Linked DNA regions of Homo sapiens. The protein of the gene in region 1 interacts with the protein of each later gene in a pairwise test. Each region holds a gene or a part of one and is shown on either strand. Other genes may lie near its edges. The genes, in order: TSPAN12 and PMP22.

Evidence for each region.
Region 2: the proteins of TSPAN12 (region 1) and PMP22 interact in binary tests that used the Homo sapiens proteins (3 or more experiments, as listed by UniProt).

The regions. Positions count from the first base shown.
Region 1 is NC_000007.14:120,805,916-120,809,953, forward strand, and holds part of TSPAN12 (tetraspanin-12), read right to left. Parts: intron 778-4,038; coding exon 634-777; intron 1-633. UniProt on the Homo sapiens protein: Regulator of cell surface receptor signal transduction. Plays a central role in retinal vascularization by regulating norrin (NDP) signal transduction.
Region 2 is NC_000017.11:15,229,279-15,231,802, forward strand, and holds the end of PMP22 (peripheral myelin protein 22), read right to left. Parts: exon of another isoform or gene 1,803-2,524; coding exon 1,639-1,802; 3' UTR 501-1,638; downstream 1-500. UniProt on the Homo sapiens protein: Might be involved in growth regulation, and in myelinization in the peripheral nervous system.

The DNA.
Region 1 (4,038 bases):
AATGAATGAATAGGAAAACTTCTGCTAAAATGGAGTAATTGATTATTCTGATCAATTCTCCCAGAAAACACAAGTATGTAAATTTCCTGGCCACATGAGGATTGACTTTACCGCCACTGAGCATAAAACTTAATCAGTGAACTAAAACTGACATCACTAATCATTAGCCAGCAGGGGGAGCTGGAGAGTAGCATGGTAGCATTTTCTTTGGAGAGGTTCTTTTTTTTCCCCTTCTATGTGTTGGTGGTCTATGTGGAGGCTCTTAAAATACGTATTCTGTCCAGGAACTCCAAACCCTCTGCTTCTTGCACATCCAGTGTTAGCTACATACTCTGCCTGTGTCTGTTTCAAAGGATCCCCAAGCAGTAGGAACTTGATTCAAAACAAAACAGTTCAAAATCCAATTAATTACAAAACCTGGTCTTTCCCACTTCCCTTTATTAAAATGTGATTAATGTTTAGATTTTTATATTGTTTTTTAGCTTTCTTCTGCTTCTCCCCATATTAGAGAAAAATTTTAAGGCCTTTTACATTTAGACAGAGAAGGAAAATTTCATTGGCATATTGTTGATTCTTTAAAGTTATTCCTAAGAAAACATTTATCCATAATAAATTAACCATATATGGCCTCACCTCTTGATAAAGGTCACTGAGATCTTCCTGGTGGGCCTGTTTGGAACATCCTGGGAATTCTCTAACACAGCAGGAATCTGGGGGCCAGTCCATCTCTGTCATTTCCAACCAGTCAGTGAAATATACTACTCCACAGCACTTAAACTGCAAAAAAAATCACTAGTCAGCCTCAGAAACCACAAAAATATTTTCTTAACTTATAGGAGATTAAACATCAGTTTTTTAAAATTTTTGTACCCAGAGCTATATCTGTCATCACCTAATGATATATGTACAGTCTATGTTGATGATAGAAATGTAGTAAAGGAACACCATGGCTAACGATTGCATAATGGAAGTATTCTGAGTAATAATGCCCATAACACATAAAAACAAATCAGGCATGACTGAGACTCACTCCCTAACTGTAAGCTCATCTACAAGTGACTATACATAGCAACAGATTGAACATACACACTAACAAACCCAAGTAGGTGACACTTTAATCATTAAACCTCTAACCACCAAAGGCCAGTTAATCAAATTTTTCTATTGCCCAACATATTCAAATATTATATTAAAAGTTTCTGTAATCTTTGTAAAAACATGTGTTGACCAAAGCCCACATCACAAAAAGTTAGCAGACATCGATTCCTTAGCTAGTAAAATATCCAAAAACTTTAAGAAATAAACATAGGTCTGGCCAACTGGTGTTTATTCAACTGAGTAAGATTCTTGAAATAAATGTTCATATTCTATTACCATAATCTCAGAAGAAATGGTGTGTGTGCCTTTAGCTTGAATAAAATTGGATTTAAGAAAAACTATACTGACATTTTTACTTTTTTATCTTATTTCTCCAAAGATTAGCAAAAACTGTCTCTGATCAAGGTTTGGAAACACTGCTTAAGGACCTCTATAGATTAGATTCAGAACAATTAACTATGATGAATAATTTTCTGTCCTTGAGTGGAGAAGGAGGTTGCTCTTTCCCCTCTAGCCAGAAACAAGGACTATGGGCAGTCACTGAGAACTTTGCCAAGAGTGACTGGCTATGCAAATTATGCAGTCCAACAGATCAATCTATGTCCAGGTTTGACATTGCATCATAAAATATCACAATCCCCCACCATTTCAAAATTTAACTAAAATTAACTTTGAAGAATTCCGAACTTCTCATGCAAAAGGAAACAATGAAAATACCACAAAGTATTTTGCGTTGTTACACTGGCCTAAATGTCTGATTTTTAAACAGAAAAAAAAATCATCTTAAGAGTATTATAAATGACGAATTACTGAAAGCTATGGGTAATACTGAAATTTTGAGAAACTTAAAAAATACTTTATATATATTTTTCCTTTTTAAACTTGCTCTCAAAGTCATGAGTATACTATAAACATCACAAATTTAGTCAATAATTTGATGTCACATATTTTACATAAGACATTAAATATCCTTAAATAATATATGTAGTATAAAGACTTCACTTCATAAAAATCATAAACAAGGAAAGGTTAACTTTCCAAGTCCATCTTTTTAAATTCTTGCACTCAAAGAAAATCCATTTGTCTCCTTTGCTAATGACATGAGTCCTTTCTGTGTTGATGACAGAACAGTTCTTGGAACTCTCTAGCTCCATCCAGCAAGGAACAGCCTATTTATATGGCTTTGTCAGGAAATAAGATATTCTACATAAATGACTTTCTCAAATATAAGTATATAATGTTCTTTCTCATTATAAGTATACGATGCTCAGTGCTGAACTTACTTTTATTTTAGAAAGCATTTGTATATAATTGTCCTTCTTCAACAGAAGATAATGAATTTATTCTGAAACTTTTTCTGAAAACTCCTTTAAGTAAGCCCAACATCATACCAACATATTACTGTGGTCTACATCTCCTTGTCATTTTCCTGTCTACTTTAATATCATATTGTGAGATAGTACTACTCTTGCTAATGTGTCAAGCTCTAGAAAATACCATCCATTTTACATATGAGTAAACTGAGGCCTTTGACAGTCAAGTAGCTTGCTAAAGTTACAGGCCAGAGTGTGGCACAGTCTATTCCAAAGCCTATGCTCCAACTACTATGTTAAAATAAATAAATAAACACATTTTTTAAAGTTAGTATTCTAAAAACGTATTAAACAAACGTCACTGGGGCTTAAGTGAGAGTCCGCTAAGTTGCGGTATGTGCATAGAATTGCACTGAATGAGGAGCAAAGGAGACTGGCACCTGATAAAGTTGCTTTCTGCAATACAGGTTATTCTAGAATTGGGTCCCCCACCCAAATGCATATGTTGAAATTCTACCTCCCAGTACCTTAGAATGTGACTGTATTTGGAGATAGAGTTTATAGAGATTGTTGAGTTAAAATAAGGTCATTAGGGTGGGCCCTAATCCAGTATGACTGATGTACTTATTAGGAGAGGGTATTTAAATATATATATATATTTAATATATATATGGAAGACATAGTGAAGACACAGGGAGAAGATGGCCATCCGCAAGCAGTCATTGCAAACTAATATAAGGGATATAAGGGATTTTAAAAACCTCAGGTTCTCAGAAGTCTTCACCATCTCCATTTACATAAAATAGTCTTATGATAATGGAGGAGGAAACTTACCATGTAACAAATCTAAAAATAAGTGTGCTATCATTTGCAGTACTTGTACATTGTCCATCTAGGTGCAGCTTCCATCAGAAAAAAACTCACTTTGTTTTTTAACCTGGATTATCACTGTCTACATCACAAATTCCAGAAAATAACGAGCTCTGGGCAGCATCTACTCAGGACAGTAGCTGACATAACTTACTATAAATTTCCTAATGCTTATTTTCTCTTTGTGTTGTTTTTAGCACAAATATACAATAAATAAACAAAGTTAGGAAGCACTTAAATAAACAGGAAATCTGTGTTACAATGATAATTTTTACCATCTCAACAGTTGTACACAGCCAGATTTGGAGATTGTCCTGGACTTGAACCTCTGCCCATATCCAGGACAAAGTAAGTGAGCAGAGATCTTGCTATCTATCACGTAAGACACTAATTCTCAAATGCTTTGCGGCCTAGCACTAAGATAAATTAAAGGAAACTGAAATACTTATCCATCTGGGAATGTCACTTCAATCACAAGGAAACTGCTTGGAAGAAGAGCTTGGTTTGAAGCAAGATCAATGGTTAACTCCAAGTCACCAAATTTTAAACATCTGAATACAGTCCCCACTTGAGAAGATGGTTGGGTGCAGTGCTACATGGCGGTTAGGTAAGAAATGCTAAACGCACCTATACTTTGTAATGTTATTGTTAATAACCATAGGCTAAATGAAATCGCATCATTTAATCTTCTTAACAACCTGAAGAGAGAGGTATTTTTATTATCACTATTTTAAAGGTGAGAAAACCAGGACTTAAG
Region 2 (2,524 bases), on another chromosome or scaffold:
TTCTCTCCTTCAGGATGGCATTAGGAGCTTAGTTGGTGCCAACCAATGTTTTATCTGCAAGTGTGGCCTCAAGTCACCATCATTCAGACCTTTCACCATATCATACCTCAGGGTGAGGGATCTGAGATGCTTCTGCCAACATTCCCAGTATATCAGGGCAGCTCATGACATGCCTCCATGTTTTCCATGTGGGTCATCAAACAACAGAGCACCAGAGAGGGTTGAACTAAATGAATACTCAAGTGCCTTCCAGTCCATTTACAGCCTCCATTTCAGCTGCAATTCCCAACTGTCTCCAATTAGCAAACCTTTGCACAGACATCATGAAGGCATCATGTGCTCCCTGTAGCTTGTAAAACAGCTATGATTTTGGTGCCTTAGCACCATCTTGTAACCCAAATCTCCAGCTCAACTTTGCTTTCCACTGAAGCTCTTCATCCTGCTCCAACAGGCACCTTGTACCCACACCCAAGTTCCCACAAAAACTCAAGAGAGACCAGTGAGTTACTCTGATGTTTATTTTAATGCATCTTAGTCCACACAGTTGGTATAAAATCAGAAAATGCAAAGCAAAAACAAAAGGTCTGGAGTCTTAGCATCAGAAGGGCACCATATATACATCTACAGTTGGTGGCCAATACAAGTCATTGCCAGACAGTCCTTGGAGGCACAGAACAGCCTAGACCCAGCCAAGCTCTAGGAACTCACGGTCCCAAGGAGTCTAGACGCTTGTTCTGATGCTCCGACCGTAAGAAAAATGTGGGAGTGATGAAGGCTTTATGATTTACTCATTATAGTAATAATAGCAGCCTAGCTAGGTACAAAAGCAGTTATAAACCATTTATATTACACAGAATTATTCAGGTCTCCATTCTATCTTATGTTGTAAAATTGTTAATTGGATTTCCAGTGAGTTGTTTAGATGATTAGTGATAATAAGGAATGGTAAATCCATAGCACCATTTCAAAGACTTGTTGTCACTGATTTCTCATTTAGATGTGTGACGAAGATACTCCACCTGTAAGGGCAAGTATGCCAATGCCACAAGCCGTGTTTTTGCAAGGGCTCCAGTTTGGGCATTTTGTCCGTGTGCGCGTAAAGCTTCACACAGAGGTTCGGGCAGCGGCTGTTTCTGTTGGATGCACTGGGTCACCCACCAGAAAAGGGCTTTTGGACATTTGGGGTTTCTACCCACACTTTGGTTTTCTAAATGAGGTGGACTGGGAGGGAGGTATCTTCTTTCAGATGAAAGGGAAGGGGCGAGATGGAGTTATCTTATTTCTGGGTAAAACAAAACAAACAAACAAAAAACAAAACAAAAATACTGAGCTGGATTATACTGTTAGGATGTAAAGTTCCTTAGCTACTTCTTTAAGGCTCAACACGAGGCTGATGGTCAACATAAAAAGCAAACAATACTATGTACATATATGTAAAAAGTGTTATAAATAGGTTTTATAAACCGGAGATATTATATACATCTTCAATCAACAGCAACCCCCACCTCCACTGCTTTCTGTTTGGTTTGGTTTGAGTTTGGGATTTTGGGCTAGCTCTTTTTTCTTTGTCTGCTTTCTGTTTTCCCTTCCTCCCTTCCCTATGTACGCTCAGAGCCTCAGACAGACCGTCTGGGCGCCTCATTCGCGTTTCCGCAAGATCACATAGATGACACCGCTGAGAAGGGCCAGGGGGAAGGCCACCCAGGCCAGGATGTAGGCGAAACCGTAGGAGTAATCCGAGTTGAGATGCCACTCCGGGTGCCTCACCGTGTAGATGGCCGCAGCACTCATCACGCACAGACCTGGGGAAGGAGAGGGACAAGCTGGGTGACGGAGAGTCCATGGCAGAGCGGCCCCCTCTCCGCCACCCCGGATGCTGACAATTGCTGGGTAGGAAGAACATTTCTACCTCTGGAAGGAAATCTGCTTCCAGGTCCAGAATTGAAAGGAGGTAGCACAAAAATATGGGAACAAGGAAAACAACTTGCTCTCTATTTCCAATCTTGGCCACCTAGGCCTTAATACCTGAGGGTTTTCTTTACATTTTCTGCCCTATTTCTCTTTCTTTCACTGTCACCAATTCCCAGGCCACACTACATGGCCAGCAGGCATTCAGGCTGCAAGAAAAACCTACCTGTCTCTTTCCAAGGGTGGTTGGGTATGGAAACCCCTGGAAATCTATATGCCACTCTACAAGTGAGTGGTGGCATTACCTAAAGCCAATGGAAGTGAAGTGACATTTTACCATTATTGGAGTCACGCCATGGTAAAAGGATTAAGCTCCATGCAGACCACAGGGGCCTATGGTCCCCCTAACAGAGTTGCCACATACCAGGTGAAGCAAGCAATGCCTATGGGCACTGCCAAACAGACAAAGAAATGTGTGGAGAGGGAAAAAGAAAGTGAGGAATAAGGATGCAGCCGACAGTATGACTGGGAAGCCACGCTGCAGAGGGGGAAGATGATCAAAGGCAAGCTCCATTTCCCTGGGTGCCCCAAGGTTGCATTTGAAGCCCAAAGAAGG